4 linked regions of the Homo sapiens genome follow. The protein of the gene in region 3 interacts with the protein of the main gene of each other region in a pairwise test. Each region holds a gene or a part of one and is shown on either strand. Other genes may lie near its edges.

Region 1 (8,344 bases), on a different chromosome or scaffold from region 3:
CCCTTCCAGTCCTACAAAATGTTCTTTCAGGCAGGTTAAGTGATTTGGGAATTCTCTGCATTCTCTGTGGTTGGGGGCTGCCTCAGCTAGTTGGGTTGGGGCAGTGAGGTAGACAGGAGGCATTTACTAGAGAAATGCCAGATCTGTTTACTCTTTCAAGGAATGTGTGCTTGTGTGTGTCTTATTCCTACGGTATATCCTAGCTCAGGGCTGGGCACACAGGAAGCATCCCGAGAGTACTTATTAGATTGAATCTTATTCACATCTAACTGCTACCTTCTACACTAGCCAAGAGGTCCTTCCTTCTTGGCCTGGGGAGGTATTGTCCTGGCCTCTCCACCTCCTGGCTCTTACTTGGTCAGCGATGACTGTCCGGTGCTGATACATTCCAGGGTTAAGCTGCCAACGACAGAACTGGCCTCTCCAGCCACGGGTAATAGTGCCTCCCCCGATGCCACCCAAGGGACAACCTAGAGAAATCAGGGTGGTTAGTGGGGTATTGGGAGAGGAAAATAAGCCCATTTCTAACTTTCTAGACTATAAAGCCTGGTTCCTCTGAAAACCTAGGGGATGGAACAGTGCAATTTGCATAAGCTGGAAGTCTCTTCCTAACTGTGGTAGACCTGGAGGCTAGGCCTTCTCTGAGCAGAGCAGAGATGGGGTGGGGCTCACCATAAATCTGTCTTAGGGGTACAGAATTGATCATGTCGATGAAAGGTGTCTTCTTTTCCACATGGGTCTTCCGGTACCACCACTGCAGGTACCTGAGGAGCAAGAGGCAATGTGAGTGGAAGGGGGCAGGTGGGCAGCTGTTCACAGGCTGAGTCACCTGCCTCTCTCTGTGACCTCCCATTAAATGTCCCAAGGACATCTGCTTTCAAACCTTTCTTCCTCTTGATTTCTATACAGTTCAAGGTCCCTTCATCTTCCCAGTCACCCCAGCTGAAGTGAAGGAGTGGCTTTGTTTCTCTCCTTTGTTCTCCTCAGAAGGGGCTTTCTGATCTCTCCTTACCTCTCTAGCACCACCACCACTGCTTTATTTCCAACATCAGGAGCTTCTGTCTGACGTGCTGAAAGGACCATTTATGGTTTCCTGGCCTACAGCCTCCGCCCCCAATCCCCTACCTCCAAAACAGGCATAGGCTGCTGGGAATAACTTTCTTATCTTTATTTTTATTATTTATTATTTTTTTTTTGAGACAGAGTTTCGTTCCTTGTTGTCCAGGCTGGAGTGCAGTGGCTCGGTCTTGGCTCACTGCAAACTCCGCCTCCCAAGTTCAAGAAATTCTTCTGCCTCAGCCTCCCAAGTAGCTGGGATTACAGGTGCCCGCCACCATGCCTGGCACATTTTTTTGTGTTTTTAGTAGAGATGGGGTTTCACCATGTTAGCCAGGCTGGTCTTGAACTCCTGACCTCAGGTGATCCGCCCGCCTCGGCCTCCCAAAGTGCTGGGATTAGAGGCGTGAGCTACCGCTTCTGGCCTTTCTTCTTTTTAAAATGATCATTTTTCTTTCTAATTATGAAAGGTGAAAGGGGGAAAAAAATAATCTCACCCATAGACAATCAGTGTTTATATTTATTTCTGGACATTTCCTCTCAAGCCTTTTTTTTTTTTTTTTTTAAATTCAACATTTAAACTGTGAAGCTTTCTGATTTTGCTCTTGGTAAAGCCTTCAAAAAATCCCAACATTTTCCTGGGCTTGGTACAGCCCTATATCCAAGAGGCAAATGATTGAGGCTGTTTTCAATAGGCAAACGATTCTGTTTTCAAGGCTCTGACATCTGTCCCAGCCTATCTTCTAATCTTATTTCCTACAAATTCTCATTCCAGATGGGTCCTCACTAAGTAGCCCCTGCCCTGCCAGACTCTTTCCCATTTCCACTCTCCTGCCTACTGCCACATTATGCCTACTGTTCAGTCACACCACTTCTAACCAAATAATTGGGTAAGTAACCCCTAAGTCCCAGTTTCCTCATCTACAAAATGGGGATACCACCTGCTCTAGCTATCTAATGAAATGGTTGAAAGATCAAATGACATAATAGATAAGAAAGCCATAAAGTACAGGTATGATTATTACTCATATATACAAACTGTTATCTCAATTCCTAATCAGACATTGCCTTGTTATTTCAATGTTCCTCATGTGAGGCTGACATACTTTTAAGTTCCTTGGGGAAAGGGACAATGACAAAGACTAGCTGAATATTACCCTCAGGTCCAAGCACAGGGTAGGACATATGGTCTGCAGTCAATGCATATTTGCCAATTTTACAGATGAATGAACATACAAATGATGGGGCACAAGAGAGATAACAGACTGGAGCAGAGGAGAAGAAATGTGATTAATGAATAGGGACAGCGGCCAGGCACGGTGGCTCACACCTGTAATCCCAGCACTTTGAGAGGCCGAGGTGGGCGGATCACGTGAGGTCAGGAGTTCAAGACCAGCCTGGCCAATGTGGTGAAACCCCGTCTCTACTAAAAATACAAAAACATTAGCCAGCTGTGGTGGCAGGCACCTGCAATCCCAGCTACTCAGGAGGCTGAGGCAGGAGAATCGCTTGAACCCAGGAGACGGAGGTTGCACTGAGCTGAGATTGCACCATTGTACTCCAGCCTGGGTGACAAGAGCAAGACTGTCTCAAAAAAAAAATAATAATAAAATAAAAAGGGACAGCACATTCTAGGGGTGGAAAGAAGAGGGAAGACAAAGGATGGGATGACAGGAAGGCAGAGAATCCTCTCTGCCAGCTTAGAGAAAACCGGACTTTGAAACTAGAGACCAGAAAGGACTGGTAGAGGGAGGGTGTGGCCGAGGATTAGGGCAACCAGGGAGAGTAACTGCAATCTATGAGGACAGACAGAACAAAGGACTATCTGGCATGGAACAAGCACTCAATAAATATTTATTGAATGAGTGGACTCTGGCTGGAAGGGAGAACAATTGAAATTGAGTTCTTACGAAGGTAAGACCCAGAGAATTCTGTCTTGCTAGAGCTCCTGGTCAGAGTGCCCACAGTTCAGCTCCATCTTAGGAGCTCTCTTACTCCCTTAATATGGTAGCTGGCCATTCCTGACCTATTTGGCCTTCTCCACAATTTCAACCTCAACTCAAGAGTTATCACTTAGAATTCTTGTCTCACCTGTGCTTTCTCCTCATAGGAACTCATCCTATTCCAAAAGCCTTGTATCAGTACCCCCCACTCTATCCTGGAATGGGGAGCCAGGGTCCAGGGGGTTGAGCACAGCTTCAGGCCTCTATGACTCAGTTCATATTTAAGGGCTAAGAGGCTAGGATGCCCATCTTTTCTTGATCTCATTGTTCCTACCACATGCAACTCAGTGTACTTCTCTATGTACACTAGATCCTATTTTGATGCAAAAACTTTTGGGGTCAAACTTGGACTGAATTGATTCCAGAAGCAGCCTGGAGGGATGATTCTTCTCTGCTACAGGCTACCCACAGGCACCAACAAAGCCAGATGTGCAGGCAGCATCAGGCCCTTCCCACTCCCCAGGGCTAGGGTTAGATAACTGATCTCCCCATCACAGCCCCACAGCACTGACTGGGGAAATGAAGGGTCTCCTACTCTAGAAACTGTAAGGGCAGGGTTTCCCAAGCTTTATGCCTCCCTCCACAGTTCTGTGTGTATTGTGTAGACTGAGTCAGGATGACCTCAGGGTGATGCTTTCTGTCCTCACATCCACCTGTTCCTGTTAATGGGTCTGGCTCCTCATCACTAGTCTTTGAACTCAGTGGGGATCTAGATGGGTTCTACATCTATGGCAGTGCCTCTCTGATAAATGACTTAATATCAAGAGCTCTCTATCCCAGAACAGAATGACAGCACCTTCTCATCACTTCAGAGGTGAGGGCAGGGAGGCTCTTCTTACCTACTCCCTGGAGCTAAAGCTTGAAGAAAGAAGCAGTAGTGTTGGGACTCTAACAGTGTGTCTAATGAGGTACAGAGAATGCCCCAGCTGCTTGTGGGAAATAAGGGGTTGAGACCCCCCCACCCCCAAATAAAACAACATTGTGTTAGTATCACAGCAGCCAGATTATCCTTTCCTACCTTGCCACAAAGTATAGCTAATCCCAAAGGGAAGTCATTGGAAACCAGTATGTGAGAAGAGCCTGAATGGGAAAGGCTGATTGCATGACCAAATGTTCCTACCCTTTCCTTCTGAAAAGACAAAACACTGGGAGGGAAGGGTGTTGCAAAGAGATGTGACCTGGTCTCACGGTCCAAAACCACAGGCCTAAAATATGCCAGGGATAGGGACCGCTTCACTCAGACAAGAAGCCCAACTGCTTTCTTGCCCTTTCCCACCTCTGCTAGAAGTTTTGAGCTGGAACAAAGTGAAGCCAAAGGCATTCTAGGCAATGGGGTCTACTCACCTCAAGCCCATGCCTATATGCTTTATCATGTTGCTTAGGGAGACGTTGTTAGCTTGAAAGGGTTTCCTCTTCTCTGTAAACTCATGAGCCAGACAGATGCGCCAGCCAAAGGGAGGCACCTGGTAGCCCATAGCTTTACCCTCATAGGAAACCATCAGCTGCCCAGAGTCCTCCGGATTGCAGCAGTCCGTCTCTTTTGGGGGTCGGCTGTCTTCGGGACTCTTACAGTCTGTAACCTGCACATCCTTGGTGCCGCCAGTCTCTTCAGGGCAATAAACTTGTGGATCCTCTTTGGCACAGCTTATCTGCTCCGAGGCTGGGACGCCGGTTCCCATGTTCCCTGGATCCTGGGTCCCCATGACCTCGATGGCGCCAAGTCCCGAGCCCTCGGATACTAAGTATCTCGCCAGCCTATTCCAGATGCGGGCGCCGGTCGTTGTTAGGTATCGTCCCGGAGGGCCGGGCGTTGGGGAAAGCTTAAATGAGCTGGTGTTTCAGTGGAGCCGGGGAGCTCTTGCTTCAGTGGGGGCGGCGACAGCAAAGAAGCCGCCTTGGGCTCTCCTTCGGTTGTCTCTGTAGGTCCTGGACGGGAAGGGTCGGGCCTCGTCGTCATTGAGCCGACGATTAGCTCGCCCGGCCAAAGGGCGACTGGGCCCGCAGAGAGGGGAGGAGCCGCGGGGCCAGCCCACCAGGCACCGCCCCGGGACGGGCCCGCAAGGCACCGCCCCCGGGACCTCGGCCCGGCCCCTGGGCCACGGCACCGGGTCCCCCAGGATTGGGCGCCAGGTCCCGCCGGCCGGCTCCGGGGCAGCGCCCGCGCCCAGGTGCCAGCCCGTGGGAAGGTGACCCTGGGCGCCGGGATGACCCGAGCCCTTTCCGGTCTGGCCTGCCGGGCGCTTCCGGCCGGAAGGGACTCCGCGGAGGGTGGGGGACCGAAGGGAAGTCCCGCCTCTACCGCCCAGCGGACGCCGCCGCCGCCGCCGCCGCCGCGTACCTAGCCAGGTCCCTGAGGGGCGGGCAGATGAGGCCTAGGGGTGCCGATCCCTAGTGTCGACTATGCGAGGTGACTAGCGGCGGTGATCTTGGGCTGGGACGTGGAACTTTGAGGAAAGGGGGAGCGGAGGCCAGTTTGGGAACTCCGCGGGGGTGCCCAGGGAGAAGAACCCGTCGCACAGGGGCTGGGGTCTAGGGCCCAGAGCGATGTCCTCCCCCTGGGCAGTACTGAGTCTTCAGTCGCCTCCCTCCCACCCGCCTACCCCTCCTATATCCAGGAGCTCCCTCGGGCACCACGGTGCTGACCACCCCTGTCCTCAGCCCTCAGCCCTAGGTGCTCACCGCAACGCCCCTCCCTGTCAAGGTGCTGACCTCCGCCCCGCCTTGTTTCCTTCTAGATCTGATTCCGGAGCTGCCATGATTGAAGTGGTAGCAGAGCTCAGCCGGGGTCCTGTATTTTTGGCTGGGGAGGCGCTGGAGTGTGTAGTGACCGTCACCAACCCCCTTCCGCCCACGGCCACTTCTGCATCCAGGTGGGGATGCTGGCACTGAAGGTGGTGGCCCTTCTGGGAAGAAGCCAGATTATCTCTGGGGCTGAGGCAGAGCTCAGGTTGTCCTGTAGCGACACCACCTCCTCTTGCTCACTGTGCTGTCATTGTAGGAGAGGGCTCTTTAACAGAAGATGTGGATGACATAGCTGTACGCTTTCCTTCCCCTCCCCCGTTCCCCTTTTTACGCACAGTCTGCTACTCTTTATTTAATGGTTTCTCTTTGGGATTGTGGATTTCCTGATCACTAGGACAGCCATCTAACCTTGTTGGTTAAGATGGTGTGATAGGGAGCTTGGGAAAGCATTTGTGAGGTCAGGAACTACCTCTGATGCCTCCTTTTCCTTTTCCCACAGTGAGGCCCTGGCCTGGGCCAGTGCCCAAATCCACTGCCAGTTCCATGCCAGTGAGAGTCGAGTAGCACTGCCTCCTCCTGACTCTAGTCAGCCAGATGTCCAGCCCGACAGCCAGACTGTCTTTCTGCCACACCGAGGTTAGAGAGGGGCATTTGCCTGGGAGAGGGGGGGTGCGGAGGGTGTGTGTGGAGGCATTGTCACCCATGGGTGAAGTTGTTAATTGTTCTTGTTCTTATAGTCCCTGTCATGCTGGGGATGTTGGGGAGCATGACTATTGCTTTAGGGGTAGAAGACTATTCCCATTTCACAGCAGGGACGGAGGGCCTGGCAGCCTTTCACTATCTCCACTTGCCGTGCTAGTCTTGTTCAGTACTGGACAATGGGTCATTAAATTAGTCATTTTTACCTTTTTCAGGTGAGAGGGGCCAGTGTATCCTTTCTACTCCACCGAAAATTCTATTCTGTGACCTGAGGCTTGATCCTGGAGAGTCCAAATCATGTGAGTGATTGTCCCCATCCCTGAATTGCCTTCTAAGTCTCCTGGAGGGAGGACTCCTCTGGTGCCTCTGGCTGTCCTGACAACTACTTCCCAACCAGACTCCTACAGTGAAGTGCTGCCCATAGAGGGACCACCCTCCTTTCGGGGTCAGTCAGTCAAGTACGTCTACAAACTGACCATTGGCTGCCAGCGTGTCAACTCCCCTATCACTTTACTCAGAGTCCCTCTGAGGGTTCTTGTGCTGACTGGTAAGCAAGGGCTCCTGGAGGGAAGGGCTGGGGAAGGGCGATGCCAAAGCAGAAATTGTCTTAGAGGGCTTGCAAGAGGGACTGCAGGGAAACTTCCTGGTCTCAGTGACAGTGCTAGGGAGTTGGGAAGGGAGGGAGGGTTCTGGAGATAGAGATGTAAACCTCAGCCCTGGCACCCCTTACCTTTAGCCATCTCATGTTAGAATCTAAAACCCTAACCTCTACTCTCATCTCCGTTCCCTCTCAGCATTACCTCTCCACTCATTCTTTCTCTAGGCCTTCAGGATGTCCGGTTTCCCCAGGATGAGGCTGTAGCCCCATCCAGTCCATTCTTGGAGGAGGATGAAGGTGGGAAGAAAGATTCATGGCTAGCTGAGCTGGCTGGGGAACGCCTAATGGCTGCCACATCCTGCCGCAGCCTCCGTGAGAATTCTTTCAGAATTGTCCTACCCCATCCTTCCCCTCATTGTTTTCCCATCTCAGAGACAGTCTCCTAACCACCACACACTTCTGTGGATCCACTGATACCTGACACCTCCAATTTTAAAGAAAAGCCCCATCTTTTGGCCTGTGGTGCCCAGTCCTAGACGTTATCCAGTATGTAGACTCCAGGCTTATAGTGTCCTATTCTCCCCAGATCTATACAATATCAGTGATGGCCGAGGGAAAGTTGGGACGTTTGGCATCTTCAAATCTGTGTACAGACTTGGCGAGGACGTGGTGGGGACCTTAAACTTAGGGGAAGGAACCGTAGCTTGTTTGCAGGTAAGAAGGGAGCAGAGCTTCTTACCTGCTGGGGTGCTGGGGTTGAAGGGCTAGGGTGGAAGGCCTGTATAAAGAGGGGTGGCATGTAGAAGGGGATAGTGGGGTCATCCAGGGTCCCTTTGTAAAACAGCTTGAGGTTGGGCTGTCCTCTCACCTACAGACAGCACTTCCTGTTAGCACACACCTGTCTCTTGCTCCCAGTTTTCAGTCAGCTTACAGACCGAGGAGCGTGTACAGCCTGAGTACCAGCGGCGACGTGGGGCAGGGGGTGTCCCCTCTGTGTCACATGTGACTCACGCCCGGCACCAGGAATCCTGCCTACATACAACTAGAACCAGCTTCTCCCTCCCAATCCCTCTCAGCTCCACCCCAGGCTTCTGTACAGCCATTGGTGAGACCCTCACTGTTACTGGAGAAGGGAGAGGGGGACAGTAAAATGCTGTGCTAAGGGAGGGTGTAATGGATCCTGATTCCTTATACACACTCCCAGACATACCCACGTCTAGCCTCTGACCCGGAACAGTTTCTCAGA
Region 2 (7,346 bases), on a different chromosome or scaffold from region 3:
AAAATCTAGGTTCATGCATTTATTTAATGTACTAACATGTCAATGAGAAAAGCTGTTGTAGACCTTAATACATGTTTGTGCAATAAATAAATGACTGAAAAAACTCTAGATGAATTCTCTGGATGTCTGAGCAGAGAGAATTCCTAGGAAATTGTAAGTAGTCTCTAAGGATTACCCTCTTCCTGATCTTTACTCCTATGGCTGTCCCAAATTCTTGCTCAGTTACTAGTTGTCATGTAAATAATCAGGCATATGGTCGTTTCTGTGCCTACTAGAAAGCAGGGTACAGTATTGTCACAGAGTAGCAAGAGTCTGATTGTTAAATTGAGACATTATAAATTCATCTAGTCATGATTCCCTCTCTCACAAAATAGATGAGTGAGACTAGAGGCAACACTATAATATCTTACATGGGTGACTTAATGTACCATCTAAGACCCAGAGTATAAGAAAACTGGGCATAGGAAAATATTTACTTGATTCAATTGAATGAATCAATAAAAAGAACACTCCCTCACCAAAAACAAAATGCATTTGTCTTATGTACTTGTGTCTTCTTTACAGCAAGGACTTCAAGACTCAAGTTCAAAATGCCAGGCATTGGAAGAAAACAATCTCTCTCTTCGACATACACTATCAGACATGGAATACAGACTAAAAGAACTGGAATATTGTAAACGTAATTTAGAGCAAGAGAATCAAAACCTTAGAATGCAGGTATTAAAACTTCCTTTTAAATATACAGTATTACCTTAGTTACATCATTGTAATCCTAGCATTTAGAAAACATATGGACTGCTTTCCCTCACATACTGTTAGATCTTAATCACTGACATTTGAGCTTTATAATGCAGTTCCTGAAAATCACTTTCATTATTTCAATGTCTTATTTAATCATGTGGTTTTCATCTAATAACAATCCTTGTAACATAACATGTATTTTCTTCAAAACAATCCAATTACAGATAGTTATTTTGCCTTCTGTAGGTTTCTGAGACTTGCACAGGCCCAATGTTGCAGGCTAAAATGGATGAGATTGGCAACCACTACACGGAGATGGTAAAAAACTTGAGAATGGAGAAAGATAGAGAGATCTGCAGACTGAGGGTATGTTGATCCTACATTGCATAAATACACAGGTCAGCACAAACTTTCTAGCAAGATAATGATGGCTTCAAGTTTAAAGCTACCAGAAAAAATTAGCTGAAGGTAGAGTTTTAGAAATATGTCATGTATTCATTTGTTTTAAATACATTACTGTATCTAAAATATAACTGTTAAATGATTTTCTAATTTAGCTTAATTTCTTCTAGGAAAGTAAAAGAAGATATTCATTTCAGTGGTTTGGTTTTGGTTTTTATTAATTTATTTTTTGGGATAGATGGAGGACTCTTCATGATCTTGCCTAAAGCATGCTTATGTAGGCAAAAGCAATATATGAAATTACTCAACAGAGCCATAGTTAGATTTGTAAAAATTCTCACTTAATTTCGAGGGATGATGAATAGCAAGGACTTTGTCAAGCATGAGGAGGAAAACAGTGTTAAGTTTTAGGTACCTATAGTTGACATCAAAATTAAGGTGATATTTATAAGTATATATTGCCTTAACTTGTAATTCTAGGTTGAATTTACTTAATCTAACCCTTATTTTACTGATTCCTAAAGGTAGTAAAATATACTTAAATATTTTAATAAACAAAATAATCACAAATTTGTCTCTCCAAACATCACTGTATAATTTTTACCAAAAATCAAAATGAAACAAAATATAATTTGTTTTCCAAACCTACCAATACTTCTAGCAGATTTCCTCCACTGATTTCTTTTCCATTCCAACATTACTAACAGCACTTCTACCTAAGCTACACACATATGAGGTAAAGAGGGAAATGGACAAGATTTGTAGTCAGAAGACCTGTTTTGGAGTTGCAGCTATGTTACTGCGTGACTGTGTCATTTAACCTCTCTGGAGCCCATTATCTGTTTTGTAAATGAAGATTATAATAATGCTTATTTCATGGGACTGCTGTGAGAACTGAGATAATTCATGCAGGAGGAATATTTTGTGAACTGAAAATCAGAATATAATAGTAGTAATTTGTTATTGCTATTTCCTTAATTATTATTTCAAGGACTCTAAAGTGCCTGTTTTCTTAGCTTTACTTTAAATTTTGTGGCCTAAGACTGTTACGTAGATAATGTTTAGTCCTACATAGCAAAGACACCTTAAAAAAAGGAGAAATTTGTAATTGGCATTTCATTTCATATTACATACTCATGAAATTCTTCGAACGTTTATGACTATTGGTATTTTACTTTCATTTCATAACTGTGTGAGTTTGTGTCACTTAACCTCCCTGGAACTCAGTTACACATTTTCTATATGAAGATTATAATAATATTTATTTCTTTTTAAATCCTTAGTCCCAATTAAACCAGTACCATAAAGATGTTTCAAAGAGAGAAGGAAGTTGTAGTGACTTCCAATTTAAGCTTCATGAACTGACAAGCTTGCTGGAAGAGAAGGATTCCCTCATAAAGCGTCAGTCAGAGGTATAAAAGGAAGGGGTGGGGATGGAGAAAAGTAATACAACTTAGTACTGTAGTACTGTAGGATAAATACTTCCCATGGACTAGAAAAGGACACATATCCAAGAGTCACTTTATTTAATGAAATAAAATGTAGGTGCAAGTGAGGAAGTAGAATATACATATTTCAGGAGACACAATTCAAATGAAAGTTACAATTGAAGCAAAAAATAAGTGCTGTTATACATTTAATATTTTTAAGACATTGATTTTATATTTCATTAGCAGTGAAATTCCCAGTAGACTGTGACCTCCTTACTACATTATGAGCTGCTTCATTAAAGCATGTGTTATATTCCTCCTTGTATCTGTAGCATGTAGCCCATGACCTGGCATTCAATAGGTACTGAAGGAATTGTCAAAAATTATGGGTAATATTGTATTGCTGTTATGGAGCAAATGGTGCTTGTAGTAACATTCATTGATAAACTCTCTCTTAAGAAACTATATCTGCTTATATATTGAAGTTTCAATACTTTTCTTCTATGGATATACTTTTCAGGCTTTTCAGAGCAAAAACTTTCACATCCTCATCCTGAGAACCACGCCCATTCAATCTCAAGTTATCCTCCAAATTTAGATATCCTGTATCAGTTGCAGGTTCCTGCACCGGCATATAATATAACTTATTAGGTACTGTGAAGCAACACTAGGTGATATTCAACAAGTGGGATTAGAACATTATTACGTCAAGGCTAAAAAGGGGTAAAAGGGAGGGGGTATAATCATTGTTAGTAACCCTTCTAAATGATTAAATATATTTATTATCTCATGTTTCTACTTTCCATCAAATGATTATATTATCTTTTATTTGTAAGGAACTCTCCAAGTTGCGGCAAGAAATATATTCCTCTCATAACCAACCCTCCACTGGTGGAAGGACTACTATTACCACTAAAAAGTAATGTATTTTTAAATGAAATTTGAATATAAAAATTATGATCATATAATCCAAGTTATTTCATGTTTAATTGGTATATACAAGCTAGACAGAGTTTGGTGTTTTCTGCTGGCCAGTTATTCTACTGAAGAATGAATATTCACAAAAAGACATCACTATTGTGGTCAAAAAAATCCTGAAGCACATCTTTCCTGAATTTACAATATATTAATTACCTTGGAAGTGAAAAACAAATAATTGTTTTTTTAACCAACCACATTAGTTAGGACTCTTTCTGTTTCATGTGACAAGAGACCCAATGTAAACTGGGACTTTTTAAATTCACTTAAATGGGGTTACTTGGTATCCAGATGGATTTGTGTGTTCAAAATATGCCTTTATAAATATGTCTTTCTTTATATCTTGGCTCTGCTCTTTCCTGTGTAGACATCTTAATCAGGTAAGGTCTACCCTCACGGTAGCAATATGACCACAAATTACATTCCAGCCATTTAGCAAAACCAAATATAAAGTAATTATGAATAGCTTCAGCAGAAGTCTATTTTGGATATTTCATATAAATGAAATAATACAACATATAGTCTTTTGTGTCTGGATTTTTCATTTTGCATAATGTTTGCAGGATGCAAGCATGATTTAGCATGAGTCAAGACTTCATTCCTTTTGGTTGCTAAATAATATCCAGTTGTATGGATATACATTTTATTTATTGATTAATCAGTTGGACATTTGGGTTGTTTTCAATTTTTGGCTATTGTGAATAATGCTGCTGTGAACGTCTGTGTACAAGTGTGTAAGGTACATGTATTCATTTCTTTTGAGTATATACCTAGGAGTGGAATTGATAGGTCACATGATAACTCTATGCTTAAGGAATTGCCATACTGTTTTCTAAAGCAAAAGCACCATCATACATTCCTAGTAGTGTATGACGGTTCCACTTTCTCCCCATCCTCGTTGCCATTTGTTATTGTTCATCTCTTGGATTATGGCCATCCTAGGTGGTGGAAAGTGGTATCCAATTGGAGTTTTGATTTGTATTCCCTAATAACTAATGTTTTTTAGCAATTTTTATGTGCTTATTGGCCATTTATACATCTTGTTTGAAGAAATGTCCATTCAATTTTTTTCCATTTTTTAAGTGAGTTGTCTTTTTATAGTTGAATTGCAAGAGATTTTCACATGTTCACAAGTCCCTTATCAGAGACAAGATTTGCAAATATTTTCATCAATTCCATGGGTTGTCTTTTCACTATCTTGAGAGTATAATATGCAGCATAAGTATTTAATATAGAAAAAAATCCAATTCATCTATATTTTTTCTTGCTTGTGCTTTTGGTATTATATACAAGAAACTGTTGACTAACCCAAGATCATAAATTTTACATTCATAAGTATTTTGTCTTATATTAATATAAACTGTCTTCTGGTTACTAATTGTATGAAATATCTTTTTCTGTCCTTTCATTTTTGACCTATTTGTGTATTTGATTCTAAACTGTGACTCTTGTAAACCACACATGGTTGTATCTTTTTATACATTCTGCCAATCTCTGCTTTTAGCTGGAATATTTAATGCACTTACATTTAATGTAATTCATAAGTTAGAATTTACATTAGCTATTTTGCTATTTGTTTCTATGTCTTATGTTTTTTGTTCTTCTGTTCCTCCATTCCTGCCTTCTTCTGTGTAAAATATTTTCTACAGTAACATTTTAATTCCATTTTAGTTACTTTTACTATATTTTCTGAGTTTTTCCCCTTAGGTTTCCCCCAGAAATTTAATTAATATTTACCTGTATAGTTACCTTTACTGGTGATCTTTATTTCTTCAAATGGATTTGGGATGCTGTATAGAGTCCTTAAATTTCAGCCTGAAGGACTCCTTTAGTATTTCTTGTAGGACTCCCTTTAGTATTTCTTGTAGAACAGGTTTTGCAGTGACAAATTCTTTGGGTTTTTGCTTGTATGGGAATATATTGCTTTTCCTTCATTTTTGAAGAATGGTTTTGCTGGATAAAATAATTCTCAGCTGACAGTGTTTTTTTGTTACTTGGAATATGTCATCCCATTGCCTTCTGGCCTCTATAATTTCTGATGAGAAATCAGTTGATAATTTTTAATTGAGGATCCCCCTGACATGTTTCTTTTTTACTGCTTTCAAGATTATTTTTTTCTATGGCCCTTGACTGTTTGATTATTATGTGTCAAGGTTTGGATCTCTTATTTTTCACTATTTGGCATTTGCTGAGCTTCTTTGATGTGCAGATTGATATTTTTAATCAAATCTGGGAAGTTTTCAGACATTTCTTCAGCTATCATTCCTGCCACTTTCCTCCCTCTCCTTGTGGAGTCCCCATAAACAGAACAGAATGTTCTGAGGCTCTGTTTATTTTTCTTCATTCTTTTTTCTTTCTGTTCCTCAGAATAGATAAACTCAACGGACCTTCTTTGCAATTTGTTGATTCTTTCTTCCATTTGCTTACATCGGCTGTTGAGAAATTTAAATCTAGTTATTATCTTTTTTACCTCAGAATTACTGTAGTTTCTCTTAAAAGTAATTTCTCTTTCTTTAATAATGTTCTTTATTCCATAAGCCACAACTCTCATCCTTTCCTTTAGTTCTTTAGTTCTTTGAGCATACTTAAAATAGCCAATTTAAAGGCTATGTAAATGCAACATCTGGCTTCTTAATGGATAGTTTCAAGTGATTTTTTCCATGATAGGCAATATTTTCTTGTTTCTTTGCATGTCTTATAATTTTTTATTGAAAACGTGACATTGAAAATAATATAATGTGGTAACTCTGGAAATTAGATACTCCCTCCTGCCAAGGTGTTCATTGTTGCTATTATTTGCTGTTGATGTTATTGTCTTTTGCTTAGTGGCTTTTCTGATTTAATTCTATAAAGTCTGTATTCTTTTCATATGTGGTCACTGAAGTCTCTGCTCATTTATCTTAGTGGTCAGTTAACATTTAAACAGAGGTTTCGTTACAAACATGAAACTAGTAAGTCTCCTAGTTTTCACTGAGAGGCTCTTTGTCTGTGTTTGGACACCTCTTCAATGTTCTGGTAGGCAATTTATAGCTCGTCCTTAGCCCCCAGTTCCTGCTTACACAGAGTTTTAAGGTTAGCCAGTACTGAGGGCTCAGGATTTTCTCAGGTCTTTCCTTCACATGCGTACAGCCTTGGGCATGTACAAAGCCCTACACATGCCTGTGGCTTTCTAGATTCCCAGGAACATATAACAAATTTTCAAAGCCCACTATGGACAATTTATTTCTCAGTTTTTCCTTTTATCATTTTTGGTCAATTTCTTGTCTGCCTGAACTATTATAGCCACCTCAGGTAGTTGTGATATTAAACAATTTCCACACATTATTTTCGACAAATGTTCCCAGGAAAAAGGATTTGCAAATTGGTTGAGCTACGAGTCAAGTTTTAAAAGGCATCCTTGCAAGTGGAGTTTTCCACAGAATCAACAGACAAATCAAACAATGACAATTATAACGACAATGTGGCTTTGAAGGAGCTCTAACCTTGTTTTGTCTTCTAGTTGCTGCCAGGCTCCTGGGTTTTACCCAGATTGTTTTAAGGGTCGGGCGCGGTGGCTCACGCCTGTAATCCCAGCACTTTGGGAGGCCGAGGTGGATGGATCACGAGGTCAGGAGATTGAGACCATCCTGGCTAACATGGTGAAACCCCGTCTCTACTAAAAATACAAAAAAAAAATTAGCCAGGCGTGGTGGCGGGCACCTGTAGTCCCAGCTACTCGGGAGGCTGAGGTAGGAGAATGGTGTGAAAACAGGAGGTGGAGGCTGGGCGCGGTGGCTCACGCCTGTAATCCCAGCA
Region 3 (7,525 bases):
GTAGCCCCCAGATAGCGCCTCCAACACCTCACCCCCAACCACCGGCAGTGTAGCATCCAATGGCGACCCCAACCTGCCCTTGCTTCGGACACTGCAGCACCCAATGGCGCCCAGAACCCGCCCCCTGCCGCGGGCAGTGCAGCCCGGGATAGCGCCCCCAATCCGCTCCCTGCCGTACACAGTGTAGCCACGAATAGTGCCCCCAACCAGACCCCTGCTGGGGGCAGTAATGCCCTGATATGGCACCCAAACCGCCCCCCAACTGCGGGAAGTGCAACCCCGGATAGTGCCCCAACCTGCTCCCCACTGGGAGCAGCAACCCAGGGAGACGCCCCAACTCACTCCCTGCCTCCGGCAGTACAGCCACAGATAGCGCACCCAACCCACCCCCTGCGCGGGCAAGGTAGCCCCCGATAGCGCACCCAACCCGCCCCGCCGGAACCAATGTGGCCCCAGGTAGCACACCCACCAGCTCCCTGGCACGCAGTACAGACCTCTGATAGCACCCAACCCGCCCCCTCCCAAAACGGGCAGTGGATACGTCCCTCAATAGCGCCCCCAACCAGCCTCCCACCCCCTCTACACGGGCAGTCTGGCCCCCAGTAGCACTCCCAATAAATCCTGCTATCTCTGTCTCAGTGTAGGCCCCAGAAAGCGCCCTCAACACCCCCCTCCCTGCTGCCAACAGTGTAGCACCCTGTAATGAGCCTAACCCGTCCCCCACCACAGCACTGCAGCCCCAGATAGTGCTGCCAACCTGCTCCCTGCTGTGGGCAGTGCAGCTATGGATAATGCCCCCAGCCAGCTTCTAGACGCAGGCAATGATGCCCTGGATATAACACGTCCCGCCCACCGCAGGCAGAGTAGCACCCGATAGCGCCCCCAACCCGTGCCTGACAAGGGCAATGCAACACCCGATAGTTCTTCCAACTCGCCCGCCGGCCACGGCCACTGCATCCCCAGATAGTGCCCCCAGAACTCCCCACTGCCGCTAGCAGTACAGCTTGGGATAGTGCTCCAACCCACCCCCAGCCACGGGCAGCGCACACCCGATAGCACCCCCAACCCACTCCCCTCTGTGGGCAGTGAGGCCCCAGATACCACATCCAACCAGCCTCCTAACACGGGCAGTAACGCCCTGGATAGGGCCTCCAACCCACCCCACCACGCCACGCCACAGGCAGTACGGCCTGGGATGGCGAACTTTTCCCACCACCATTTTACCATTCTGGCTGCGCTCTAGTCTCCCTGGCCCGCACCAACGGCAGCAGCGAGGTGAGCCACGGCAGGCTCCAGCCTCCACTGTGCTAATGAAGTTGCTCCTCCTCCTTTTCCTCTAAGCTTCCAGACTCCAGTGTGCTCAGGAAGTGACTCGTTTTCTTTTTCCTCTAAGCCAGTACTAACCAGCTACACAAGCTGACGCAGGAGAGCTTGGAATGACAAAACTCCCCCCACTTGGCATCATTTATATATGAGAATTTATGCAAATGAAGTTCCTGGGCTACATGTTCTGATTGGATGAGGAAAACCTCTAGGCCTACTCTGATTGGACTTTGTTATCATGTTCTGATTGGTTGTCCTAAGACTTGCTCTCATCCAATCAGAACATGCAAATAAAGCCCAATCAGAGTAGATCTAGAGGTTTTTCTTCTCATCCAATCAGAATATGTAGTCCAAGAACCTCATTTGCATAACCTCGGTAAGGGGAAGTCTCAGTTCCAGGCTCTTCTAGGCTATGTTCTCTGTCTCCACACCTTCCTCTCAGACAGCAGCTGGAGCCCCAGAACCTGGGAGCCTCACAGAGAAAGTCCTGATGTGGGACCTGGTTTTCCACCCGAGACCCAGGATCCAATAAAGAAGTGTTTCCATAAATGATGCATCCTCCAAAGAAGGCCAGTGACTTTCTGTGCCAAGTACCTGACAGAATTGCCATTTCCTAGAGCTGCCAGGCAGCCCTAGGTGCACAGGTCACCTGTGCATGTGTCAGAGACCAAATCCCATCAATATTGAGGCCTTGGTTAAGACAGGTACTTGCTTTTAGTCGTGAAAAGATGCCTGGCTTTGGCAGGAGAATCGCTTGAACCTGGGAGGCAGAGGTTGCAGTGAGCCAAGATTGTGCCACTACACTCCAGCCTGGTGACACAGCGAGACTTTGTCTCAAAAAAAAAAAAAAAAAAAGAAAGAAAAGAAAAGATGGCTGGCTTCAACACTGAGAAAACCAACTCTCCTTGAGCAAATGCTTTGCATATTCTCATAGAAATAAGGGAACACCTATTACCCTCCTTGCACTGCTTCCTGCACAGCTGGGATACTACCTTTCACAAGCATCCTGAGCCACCTGCTGGCCTTTTGTGTGTGTTTCCTTCCTGGCTTCCTCCCATTTTTTTTTCCATCTCTGAACCTGCTGTAAGGTGAAGAATTGAGGCGGGCCCCAAATGTAAGACCTCATGAATTTGACGATGCAACAGTGTCCTGGACAGCCTGGCTCTCAGGGCTGGGGAGCTGGGCAGAGAGAAAAGAGGGCATTCCAGGGGCCAGGGAGCTCCAGGCCCAGAGTAGGATTTCAAGGCTAAAGAAACAGAGGCTGTGGGTGGGTAGAGGGTCTTGACTAGGGTAGGGACAGAGGGTGCGTCTTAAGGCTCAGCTAGGGACAGCTTCATCCAGGAAGTAGTCAGCAATTGGGGGCCAAGCTGCAAGGAGGAAGAGGTGGGGAGAGAGAATGGAGAGAGAGGTGTTCAGTGATCAAATGCCTGGCCTGGCCTGTTTCCTCAGGAGACACCCCTGGGAGTCTGGGAGCCTCTCCCCCGGGCTGCTATCCAACAGGGTGCAAGTAATCCCCCCTTACACACACTAAGAACCCAGGGTGAGTGTCAAATTATATGTTAGCTAAGAAATGAAGAGAGGGAGCAGGATTTCTGGTTGACGGTGAGGATATTTATTAAGGGTTTACTGGTACAAGGAGAGGGGCTGGATGATTTGGGGTGGGAGGGGATCTCTGTTCTGGGATCCTGCAGCTCCAGGCCCCCATGGGTGGGGTGAGGGTCAGGGACCTAAGAACATTCTTCAGGGGCCACTGTCTTCTCCACAGTGCTCTCTTGTGTGTGACCTTACAGCTGTAGCTGCTGCAGGACCTCCACTGGTCGGGTGTCAGGCTCAGGTCGCTTCTGGCTGTGTGCTTGTTGCTCTGTTTGGAGGTCTTGGTGACTTCCGTACCCTGGGTGACAGGGGTGCTGTTTGCCTTCCAGGCCACCGTCACAGCTCCCGGGTAGAAGCCACTCATGAGACACAGCAGTGTGGCCTTTTGGCTTGGAGCTCCTCAGAGGAGGACGGGAACAGAGTGACCAAGGGGGTGGCCTTGGGCTGGCCTGTGGGTGGGCGAGCGGCAGGAGGTCAGCATCCTGTTGTGTACCTGGGAGCCCCCTGACCTCAGTGTATGAAGAGGGGTCAGGCCCCCTCAGTGCCAGTGTAGGACCCCTCAGACATGGTCCACAGTGTCTCAGAAGGGTGTGACATGAGGTTCCTAAAACAACTCTCTGTCATTCAGGGAACCTCCGAGCCTGTCCCCTGCCCACCAGTGGTGGCAGTTAATTTGGTATTCATTTCCAAGGCTGGAGAAGGATGTAATTTTTTTTCTTTTCTTTTCTTTTGGTGAGACAGGGTCTTACTGTGTTGTCCAGGTTGGAGTGACCTGGCGTGGTCTCTGCTCACTGCTAATTTTTGTATTGTTTGTAGAGATGAGGTCTTCCTGTGTTGTCCAGACTCGTCTCAAATTCCTGGGCTCAAGGGATCTTCCTGCCTTGGCCTCGCAAAGTGCTGGGATTACAGATGTGAGCTACTGCATCCAGCCCCCTTTTTTTTTTTTGAGATGGTGTCTCACTCTGTTGCCCAGGCCGGAGTGCAATGGCACAATCTTGGCTCAGTGCAACTTCTGCCTCCCAGGTTCAAGCGATTCTCCTGCCAAAGCCTCCCAAGTATCTGGGATTACAGGCGTGTGCCACCACGCCTGGCTAATTCTTTTGTATTTTCAGTAGAGATGGGGTTTCACCCATCAGGCTGGTCTCGAACTTTTGATGACCTCAGATGATCCACCCACCTTGGCCTCCCGAAGTGCTGGGATTACAGGCATGAGCCATCGTGCCCAGCCTCTCAGCTCCTAATTCTTATGTTCATCAATCAGTCTCTTGCTGGGGTTCCCCTAGGAGGTGGTGAAATGACCCCAGCTCGCTGTTCCTCACATGGGTGCTGCCACGTCACTGGCTCAGGCTCAGCTGCTGGGTCACCAGGAGAATGGACCCTTCCTCCACCTCAGCTCAGAGCACAGTGATGATTCGTGACTTTCCCAATAGAACTTCAAATCTCTGAGGACGGGGGGTGGGGGGATGTGCTTGAGTGTTTGTACTCATGGTCTTGTTCTCGGAGTGACAAAGCTGGAACACAATACCTCTATGCATGAAAAGGTTGTCACTTGTCACAACTAACAGGCTTTCACCTCAAGGAAATTTTCTTCCCTTGTGTACTTTTCCCCTGGCAGTGGACATGGCTGCACTCTTCCAAGAAGCAAGCAGCTGTCCCGTCTGCTCAGACTATCTGGAAAAACCAATGTCCCTGGAGTGTGGATGCACCGTCTGCCTCAAGTGCATCAATTCGCTGCAGAAGGAGCCCCATGGGGAGGATCTGCTTTGCTGTTGCTGTTCCATGGTCTCTCAGAGGAACAAAATCAGGCCCAATCGGCAGCTAGAGAGGCTGGTTTCCCACATCAAGGAACTGGAGCCCAAGCTGAAGAAGATTCTACAGATGAACCCAAGGATGCGGAAGTTCCAAGGTAAGGAATCTGTATACCCTGCCCCCTTCCCAAGACCAGACCAGGAAAAATCATCTGTGCAGTTGGCCCCTCATTCCACATGGGGATTAGCTGCTGTCTGGCACCTAAAATTGAGATGCTTCATCATCACATTCTCAGCCCTGACAACACATAGAATCACCTGGTGATGTCAAAAACAAAAACAAACAAAAACCCGATGTCTATGTCATGGGTTAGACAAGGGATTCTCTAAACTTAGTGTGCTCAGATTACCTGGGGATCTTGTTAAAATGCAGATGCTGAACTGGGAAGTCTCAGGATTGATCCCGCTGGCTTGGGGACTTTGCTGAGTAGCAAAAACATAGAGCAACTGAATTTGAATTTCTCTCTAGCAAAGGTTCCCATGAATCTGACATTAAGATGGGCCTGGTATTTCTAATGCACAGTGAATATTGGCACCCATTGTACCAAACAACCTCACCCCAGGGTTGAGAAGAGTTGGGAATGGAGCACCTATGGTGTTTGTTTCTGTGAGTGGGGAGAGTTGCAGATATTGGTCTCCTCATCCATGCGCCATGGGCTCCAACAGTGGTCCTGGCTACAGAAAATACTATCACTCTCCATAACTCTGGGGAAAAGGGACATTTAAATGAAAAGGTTATGGTCAGCCTGGGCAAAGAATTACACCTATAAATGGTGGTGGGCCCCTATAATGTCCCTGACACTGGTAGCTTCTGCCCTGACACCCATGATCTCTACTCATCCATCTACCCATACCTGACTGTCTCTCTGCTGAACTATGGAGGACAGAGATTCACCCTGTCCAAGTCATGTTTGGAACCCTCTTCCTCCTTCCTTGTCCATGTCCATTCCCTAATTCACCATTAAATAGCAATCAATCCCTAGTCTTGACTAGGGTAGTCTTACTGTGATCTATAAAATCTATATTAGTGATCATATCAGTTTTTTGACTTGAAGGATAATATATTTTGTAGATTTTTTTTTTTCAGAATGTTCTGGACAATTAATTTTCTCTAGGCCAGATCACACTGCCTCCTCCATGAGAATTGGCGGCTTCACCTGTCAGTCACATACCCAATGCCTTAAATTATTGACCTTTGTATTTTCTGCCCTTATTCTCTACAATCAGTCAGTTATGACAGACAACTTTCAAATACCTTTCTCTTGGCTCCAAAATTTACCATTGTTTTGCTTAAGGTCTCACCTTCCATGTAGGATAGAAAACATTCTTTCATCTAAAAGGTCCCCCTCCTCCACCTGGCCTTAGAGCCTCCTAATGTCCAGGACCAGCATCTCTGTCATCACATTGTCAGCTGCAGAGATACCCTATCTGCTGTCAGAACTGTGCACAATTAATTTGTTTACAAACATGGAAAACAAAAGCCTGGAATCATGCTCTATATACTGAATTGGAGCAATAAAATGTGGAAGCAGAAACATATTTAATATTGACCACTTGCATTGTCTTAATTATCATTTATTTGTTCACACATCAAGGTGGTAGAAAGGGGGGCATGGTGTCTGCCTTCAGAGACCCTCCACTCTAAATGAAGAAAAGTTCAGTGAAGCAAACACGTGACGTAAAGTAAAATAAGAATTGCTACTGTGAATAAGAGTCACGTATTGCCACAAAGCATACCTATGAAAATTTGAAATAGGGAAGTTTCCTCATGAAAAGTTTTGATTTTGGAGGAAGAAACAGAATTAAAGAAACTAAAGTCAGGAGATATTTGGGCCTTTGAAGTAGAAGAGAGGCATGGGGTTGGCTTCTGTCCACTTGCTGAGCAACTTGTTTTCCTTTTCACAGTGGATATGACCTTGGATGCCGACACAGCCAACAACTTCCTCCTCATTTCTGACGACCTCAGGAGCGTCCGAAGTGGGCTCATCACACAGAATCGGCAAGACCTTGCCGAGAGATTTGACGTGTCCGTTTGCATCCTGGGCTCCCCTCGCTTTACCTGTGGCCGCCACTACTGGGAGGTGGACGTGGGAACAAGCACAGAATGGGACCTGGGAGTCTGCAGAGAATCTGTTCACTGCAAAGGGAAGATCCAGCTGACCACAGAGCTTGGATTCTGGACTGTGAGTTTGAGGGATGGAAGCCGCCTCTCTGCCAGCACGGTGCCGCTGACTTTCCTCTTAGTAGACCGCAAGTTACAGCGAGTGGGGATTTTTCTGGATATGGGCATGCAGAACGTTTCCTTTTTTGATGCTGAAAGTGGTTCCCATGTCTATACATTCAGGAGCGTCTCTGCTGAGGAGCCACTGCGCCCATTTTTGGCTCCTTCAATTCCACCTAATGGTGATCAAGGTGTCTTGAGCATCTGTCCTTTGATGAACTCAGGCACTACTGATGCTCCAGTCCGTCCTGGGGAGGCCAAATAAGCCGCCACTGCAAAAAAAAACAGGGTCAGAAAATTACTTGGGTGGGTAGACTTAGGAATTTTCTACTTGGTAAAAGCATTATACAGTCATAGGAGAAAGATATGGGACATTTCTATAATCTATATTCTAATTTGATTCGATTATTGAGTCGTAAGTATTAATTATTGCCACCATCCAACTCATTGAGTCTTATGGTTCACATCTTGTTTCCTATAGAAATGTTCTGTATTCTCGGATCAATTTCCAAATGCTTTACTTTTTCATTTCTGTAAGTTCAAATCAATGTTTAAATTATAGAAGTTATGAGGTAAATAA
Region 4 (7,506 bases), on a different chromosome or scaffold from region 3:
TTAACACATTATCACCTCCCTACCCTTCTTGGAATTTCCTTTGGGGATTTTTCTGACATAAAATACACATAAATAGCAGATATTATGTTAAAAAATATAGAAAAACATTTCACTTTAGCACCCATCCTTTTGAAATAAAAATGCAATTCTATACATATTCTTCTAAGCGGAAATCTTGGGTGTCTTCTAAAGCCAGGCCCTATGCAAGGAACCCGATACTTTCAAAATTAAGTGAAGACAGTGTCTGGACAGAGAACTGTGGTTTTCAAACTTTTGGTAGCAGAGTACCATAAATATTGAAATCTCACTGGGTGCAGTGGTGTGCGCCTAGGGTCTCAGCTACTCAGGAGGCTCAGGTGGGAGGATCACTTGAGCAAGCCCAGGAGGTTCCAGGCTAGCCTGGGCAACATAGCGAGACACTGTCTCTTAAAAAATAAAGAAGATCTGTTCGGTACCCAATTTACTTTCTTTTATAATGCTGGTCCCTACTCAACATCCCTGTTTCTATTATATGACCCCAGTGACCATGCTCTTAACCACTATGCAATAATTCTGCCCATTTACTTGTCACAATCACCCCATGAGGTCATAACATTCATTTATTCCCAGTTTACCCATGAGTTCCCTGAAGCTCAGAGAAGTTAAGTAAGTCGCTTAGCTTCAGTGAGTAAATCAGTTCACTGATTACAGTCAGTAAGCTGGGGTGACCAAAGTCACAATGTTTTTTTTGCCCCTAGCCCCCACATAAGCTTACCTCTCCACAGCATTTTGCTCCCATTCCAGAAAGGAAACCACATTGGCAGCCATTTCCAAAAGGCAGGAAAAAGGCTGTAAGTGGTAATGACCCTAAGAGACTCATGGGAAGAGCTTGGAAGCAGCAAAAAAAAATGGAGGACACTTAAATTAGGTCATGAAAAGTACCATTCCTCTAAGTAAGATAACTAAGAACTGATTGGTTTCAGACAGTACAGGAATGATAAACACCAAACTCAGCCTGGTGATTACCTCCAAAAAGAGAGTAAAAGGTGATTAGGGCTTTACCTCAATCTGCGCTGTAATTCTTAAATTCAGAGTAATGGGTTCCCAGGTATATCATGTTAGCTGTATTTTTTGTATGCCTCAAATGTTATTTAAGAAAAGACTAATTACTTGTCAATTTACCAGAATTAACCATACCCGGATCACTCCCCTTTGTATTTTATTGCCATGTAATGGGATGTTCTTTAAATTCTCTGTTGAATGAATGAGACTAGGTCTGAGTGTACAACAATTAAAGTGACATCAACATTCTTTAAACCAGAGTTGTTTTGGAGAAATTCCCAGAGAGGCTCTTTCTTAAGACATGAGGCTAGGGAACTAGATGTGATTTAGTGTAGAAGTCCTATCCCCTTGGAACCAAAGCAGAACCTATTATTCACTAAGGGTGGAGTCGACAGGAGGTAGGTGACTTAAACCAACAAATATTTATTAAGCATCTACTAATTGTCAAGTGCTGGCAATCCAATGAGATTAAGACAGATACTATTCCTGCCTTGTAGAGCTTACAGCCTGGTGGAAGAATTGGAAATCTTATTACTAGAAATAAAGGTGAGAATAAGATGGAAGTGATCCCCTTACCACCTCAGAGAGAATAAAGGATTATACAGAAGAAAACTGTAAGACTTTAAAATTTTTTGTTTATAACTCCATCTTTTCCAAAATAATGAGCAGTGACTGCACCAACTTGTGCACAGAACACCTCGACCAAGTACCCTAAGGGATAAAGTAATAAGTGACAGCTACAAAGAGGAAATGTGGTAGAATCCCTGGAGCCAGCTGTCAAGTAGAAAAGAGAGCAGAAGTAGGCCTGTGTCAGGGGAGGGTTTCCTCTAGAATGAATAATCAAAGGAGACTACTTACGGACTATGAAGTATGCTCCTCTCCTGTAGGAAAATACAGTATTTTCCCTATATTTACTTGCACAATTTTCTTCAAGTTATACGGCTATTAAAAATGACAGGAACACTGTAAATCTATAAAAGTAATTTCTTTAGGAGTGTTCTGTTTTTTGTTTTTGTTTTTTTTTTTTTAAGATTAGGCCTTCCGTTTTGGAAATCCCAAATAAAGTTATCCTCAAGTCTGATCATTTGTGAACGCTTAGCCTCAGAATGGAGGACACTTAAATTAGGTCTTTATTCTCACAACATATGCATCATCTGAAGCAAAAGTAGAAAACTTGGCTCAATATGGAATAAGTCTTCAGCAAACAAACATAAGCTATATCCTGTAAAGGGATGGAGAGAGTAAATCTCTAGAGGTGAGCCTTAGAAATGTATCAAGGTTTCACCCACTGTTCACAAGGGACAGCGAGTAGCCTCAACAATACTGAACTGTCCATAAAGAAACCCATGCAGGAGTACCTGGTGCTCACGAATGCAGACAGCACTCTGAAAGTTCAGAACGGCTTCCAGGGATTATAACCCCTCATGCCCGGGAAGGCCAAAGGGGCCTATCTACTAAACCTAGGCCGCCCCGGGGAAGGTTCCCGCCACCGTCCCCACCGAGCAGCGGTCAGTCTGGCGCGAATCAGGAGCAAAAGCCCACATTCTCCCGCAGGAGGCCCTACAAAAATGGCGCCGGCTCCACCCCAATGTGACCAAACTGGGCAACAGGAGTTAACTTCCCAGCTCCTCTCCCGAGCTCAGAGTCGCGTGTGGGGCGCCCAGCCGCGGGCAGGCAGGGCGGGAAGGAAAAAGGGTCACTGCGGCCTGGGTGACCTGCAATCTACGGGCAGGACCTGGGAGACCCGGCCGAGCAGAGCCGTGGTCCGGGGGTCCGGGCGGCATTACCTTTATTCTTGGGCATGGCGGTGGCGGCGACCTCGCGGCGTCTCTGACTTCTTTCCGGGTAGCGGCGACCGCGGCGGCTGCTGCTCCGAGGGGCGACACGAGGGAGCGCGCGGGACCAAGTAGGTGCTGGAGGCCAGGCAACGTGCGCGGGAGAGGCTGGCGACCCAGCTCTTCAGAGATCCGCCTGCGTCCACGCTCGGCGGCAGCAAATGGCGCCGCGACTCTTTGCGTCGCTTTTCCCCGCCTCCCGTCGCCGGCTGGGCCCGCCCCCAGGCTTTATGACGCAGGCGTGGCCGACTGACTCCTATTGTTAGAGCCGAGGGAGACGCGTTGTGGGAGGGTGCGCAGCAAGCCAGAGAGGACGCGAGGGGCAGGGCCTCAAGCAGGGAAAAGGCGGAGTCAGGGAGGGAGGGGGAGAGACTCTGCGTCATAGAAAAGGGCGGGTTGAGGTGGCGCTTGCTGCTGGTTAAGACCAGACCTCTGCTGCTTTGTAGCAAACGCGCGTCTCCCGGTTTCACAAGTGGCTGACTCGTTAACCTCGTGGTTAGCTCAGTTTTTAAAAAATATGTATATTTTTATTTTTATTTTATTTTTTGAGACGGAGTCTTGCTCTAGAGTCGCCCAGGCTGGAGTGCAGTGGCGCGATCTCGGCTCACTGCAACCTCTGCCGCCCGGGTTCAAGCGATTCTCCTGCCTCGGCCTCCGGAGTAGCCGGGATTACAGGCACGTGCCGCCACGCCCGTCTAATTTTTGTGTTTTTAGTAGAGACGGGGTTTCAGCATCTTGGCTAGGCTGGTCTTGAACTCCTGACCACGTGATCCATCCGTCTCGGCCTCCCAAAGTGCTGGGATTACAGGCGTGAGCCACCGCGCCCGGCCAATATTTTAATTTTTTTATTAAGATGGAGTCTTGCTCTATCGCCCAGGCTGGAGTGCAGTGGCGCGATCACGGCTCACTACAACCTCCGCCTCCCGGGCTCAAGCGATTCTCCTGCCTCAGCCTCCCGAGTAGCTGGGATTACAGGCATGTGCCACCATGCCCAGGTAATTTTAGTACTTTTAGTTGAGACGGGGTTTCACCATGTTGGCCAGGCTGGTCTCGAACTCGTGACCTCAACTCGCGCCCACCTCGGCCTCCCAAAGTGCTGGGATTACAGGCGTCAGCCACCGTGCCCAGCCGGTTAGCTCATAACGCAGTCCTTTCACTCGCCCAGCCGGGTTGGGAGCCTGATGGGAAGGGCAAGGCTTTCCTGGCATCCATTACCAAAGCATAATATTTGCATGGCACTTGTTATTACTCTTTAAGTCTGTCTGTCCTACCTCACTGTAAACCTTACCGGGCAGAGACCATGTTTGTTGCTTACCATTACCCCCACTTAGCTGAATGTCTGGCACATAATAGGTGTTCAATACACACAGAAAGGAAGGGAGGGAGGGGAGAAAAGACTTAAGCTCAATGTTAATGGGCTGAATTGTGTCCCCCCCAAAATTCGTATGTTCACGTTCTAATCCCCAGTAACTCAATGTGACTGTATTTGGACATAAGTTCTTCAAAGACGTGATTAAATTGAAATGAGGTCATTAGTGTGGACCCTTATCTGACTGGTGTCCTTACAAGAAGATATTATTAGGCCACAGGCATAGAGGGAGAACACCACGTGAACAAGAAGGTAGCCATCTATAAGCCCAGGAGAGAGGCCAACCCTGTTGACGCTTGATTTTAGACTTTCAGTCTCCAGAACAATGAGAAAATAAATTTCTGTTGTTTAAGCCACTCAGTACGTGGTACTTTGTTATGACAGTCCTAGCAAACTAATACAGCTGGCTAATGCTGGGCTGTACTCTACAAGATTTATTTCTAAGTAAACTTATTTTGACTAAACCAAGTAAACTTATTTTAAATAAATCACCTTTCCACAAACACCAGGGTTTGCACATACTTAGAAGACAGAAATAAAGTATCATCATCTAATATAGTGGTTCTTTTCTGTGAACATTTGGCAGCGTCAACCAGAAATGTTTCTGGTTGTCATAACTTGAGGAGGGGGGCAGTGATGCTGGCATCTAGTGGGCAGAGGCCAGGGATGCGGCTAAACATCCTACAGTGCACAGTACAATCTCCCCTCCCCCATACAAGCAAACAATTATCCAGCCCAAAACATCAGCAGAGCTGATATTGAGAAACCCAATGACAGATGCACTTCTTAGAGTGAAATTGAAAGATAATGGGGGACTCAAAGTTCTGGGTTTCTCTTTCTATCTGCAATATTTTTCAATTTACATAATTGAGGATGAAAGGATTTTTTATGAAATTTATTTAAATTTTGCTCCAAGGTCAAATAATTATGAACTTGAGCTTTGGAGTTAGAGAGGCCTGGGTTCAAATTCAAGCTCTGCAGTAACTTATTACTCTATTTTCTTGGGCAAGTTTTAATCTCTTTACAAGCTTCCGTTTTCTCATCTGTAAATTGGATGTAGGAATAGTACTAACCGGCCAGGCGCAGTGGCTCACACCTATAATCCCAGCACTTTGGGAGGCCGAAGTGGGCGAATCACCTGAGGTCAGGAGTTCGAGACCAGCCTGGCCAAAATGGTGAAACCCCATCTCTACTCAAAAATTCAAAAATTAGCCGGGTATGGTGGCAGGCGCCTATAGTCCCAGCCACTTGGGAGACTGAGGCAGGAGAATCACTTGAACCCAGGAGGCGGAGGTTGCAGTGAGCCAAGATCGCGCCACTGCACTCCAGCCTGGGCAACAAGAGTGAAACTCCATCTCCAACAAACAAACGAACAAAAAAAAAGAAAAAAAAAAGAATAGTACTTACATTAGGTTGTTGCAGGAATTAAATTGATATAATGCATTCAATTAGCAATTGTGCCTAGTACATGGTAAGTAGTTAGACTCTAAGAGTCCGGAACTCTAAATGTTTAAAAATAAAAAGTTTCTGTCAATTACCCAGTATAAAACCTCAAAGAGGAAAAAAAAATATCAGGCTTCATTTCTCTACTGTAGGATGGTTCCCCCATCTGACTGATCATCTTAATCACTTGGAAGGAAGTGAGTCAGGTGGACATCTGGGGGAAATGTGTTCTAGGCAGAGAGAACAGCAAGGGCAAAGGCCCTGAGTGGAAGCATGCTTGGTATATTCAGGAAACAGCAAGAAGCCAGGTGCAGTGGCTTCCACCTGTAATCCCAGTGACTCAGGAGGCTGAGATGGGAAGATCGAGCTTGAGGCCAGTAGTTCGAGACCAGCCCAGGCAACATAGCGAGACCCACCCCCCCATCTCTAAAATAATAAACACACGACAGTAAAAAAAGCCAGGCATGGTAGTTCACATCTGTAGTCCCAGCTACTTGGGAGGCTGAGGCAGGAGGATCCTTAGAGCCCAGGAGTTTGAGGATGCAATGAGCTATGATCGTGCCACTGCATTTCAGCCTGGGCAACAGAGTGAGACCCCATGAAAGAAAGAAGGAAAGGAGGAAGGAGGGAAGGACATAAATGAAGGAAAGGAAAGAAGGAAGGAAGGAAGAAAAGAAAGGTCAGTGTGGCTAGAATGCATTGAGCCAAGGGAAGAATTTGAAGAGATGAGATTGGAGAAGTAAGGAGGCCAGATCACTTGAATCTTCAGTAGGTTTTTTTTTTTTTTTTTTTTTTTTTTTTTGAGACAGAGTCTCGCTCTGTTGCCCAGGCTGGAGTGCAGTGGCGCGATCTTGGCTCACTGCAACCTCCGCCCCCTAGGTTCAAGTGATTCACCTGCCTCAGCCTCCCTTAGTAGCTGGGACTACAGGTGTGCGCTACCGTGCCTGGCTAATTTTTGTATTTTTAGTAGAGACGGGGTTTCGCCATGTTGGCCAGGCTGTTCTCGAACTGCTGACCTCAAGTGATCCACCCGCTTTGGCCTCCCAAAGGGCTGGGATTACAGGCATGAGCCACTGCGCCCGGCCTTTCAGTAGGTTTTTAAATAGATCATTTTGGTTTCTGTGTTAAGAACAGACTGTAGGGGGCAAGGGTGGAAATGGAAACCACACGGGAGGCTACTGTAACAGTCCGAACGAAAGACAGTTGTGGCTTGGACTAGGGTATAAAGTTTCTTTTTAGGATGGTGAGAATGTTCTAAAATTACATTATAATAATGGTTGCACAACTCTGTAAGTACTATACTAAAAGACATTAAATTGCTGGGTGCGGTGGCTCACACCTGTAATCCCAGCACTCTGGGAGGCCGAGGCGGGTGGATCACAAGGTCAGGAGTTCGAGACCAGCCTGGCCAATATGGTGAAACCCCGTCTCTACTAAAAAATACAAAAATTAGCCGTACGTGGTGGTGTGCACCTGTAGTCCCAGCTACTTGGGAGGCTGAGGAGGGAGAATCACTGGAACCCATGAGCTGAGATCGTGCCACTGCATTCCAGGCTGGGCAAGAGTGAGACACTGTCTCAAAAAAAATAAAAACAAAACAAAACAGTAAATTGTACACTTTTTTTTTTGAGACAGAGTTTCATTCTTGTCTCCTAGGCTAGAGTGCAATGGCGTAATCTCAGCTCACTGCAACCTCTGCCTCCCAGATTCAAGTGATTCTCCTGCGTCAGCCTCATGAGTAGGTGGGATTATAGGCTCCTGCCACCATGCCCGGCTAATTTTTGTATTTTTAGTAGAGACGGGGTTTCGCCATGTTGG

The links.
Region 1: the proteins of RFPL3 (region 3) and RGP1 interact in binary tests that used the Homo sapiens proteins (3 or more experiments, as listed by UniProt).
Region 2: the proteins of RFPL3 (region 3) and POF1B interact in binary tests that used the Homo sapiens proteins (3 or more experiments, as listed by UniProt).
Region 4: the proteins of RFPL3 (region 3) and EIF1AX interact in binary tests that used the Homo sapiens proteins (3 or more experiments, as listed by UniProt).

The regions. Positions count from the first base shown.
Region 1 is NC_000009.12:35,743,943-35,752,286, forward strand, and holds the start of RGP1 (RAB6A-GEF complex partner protein 2), read left to right. Parts: upstream 1-5,344; 5' UTR 5,345-5,466; intron 5,467-5,794; 5' UTR 5,795-5,813; coding exon 5,814-5,929; intron 5,930-6,300; coding exon 6,301-6,437; intron 6,438-6,715; coding exon 6,716-6,799; intron 6,800-6,897; coding exon 6,898-7,047; intron 7,048-7,323; coding exon 7,324-7,470; intron 7,471-7,684; coding exon 7,685-7,812; intron 7,813-8,013; coding exon 8,014-8,203; intron 8,204-8,344. Other genes in the region: GBA2 (non-lysosomal glucosylceramidase), read right to left, coding at 355-470, 673-764, 4,404-4,762. UniProt on the Homo sapiens protein: The RIC1-RGP1 complex acts as a guanine nucleotide exchange factor (GEF), which activates RAB6A by exchanging bound GDP for free GTP and may thereby required for efficient fusion of endosome-derived vesicles with the Golgi compartment.
Region 2 is NC_000023.11:85,299,552-85,306,897, reverse strand, and holds part of POF1B (protein POF1B), read left to right. Parts: intron 1-564; coding exon 565-717; intron 718-987; coding exon 988-1,107; intron 1,108-2,426; coding exon 2,427-2,555; intron 2,556-3,409; coding exon 3,410-3,492; intron 3,493-7,346. UniProt on the Homo sapiens protein: Plays a key role in the organization of epithelial monolayers by regulating the actin cytoskeleton. May be involved in ovary development.
Region 3 is NC_000022.11:32,353,623-32,361,147, forward strand, and holds the start of RFPL3 (ret finger protein-like 3), read left to right. Parts: upstream 1-4,244; 5' UTR 4,245-4,449; coding exon 4,450-4,822; intron 4,823-6,283; exon of another isoform or gene 6,284-6,629; coding exon 6,630-7,210; 3' UTR 7,211-7,525.
Region 4 is NC_000023.11:20,138,797-20,146,302, forward strand, and holds the start of EIF1AX (eukaryotic translation initiation factor 1A, X-chromosomal), read right to left. Parts: upstream 3,043-7,506; 5' UTR 2,845-3,042; coding exon 2,829-2,844; intron 1,649-2,828; exon of another isoform or gene 1,539-1,648; intron 1,440-1,538; exon of another isoform or gene 1,172-1,439; intron 1-1,171. UniProt on the Homo sapiens protein: Component of the 43S pre-initiation complex (43S PIC), which binds to the mRNA cap-proximal region, scans mRNA 5'-untranslated region, and locates the initiation codon. This protein enhances formation of the cap-proximal complex.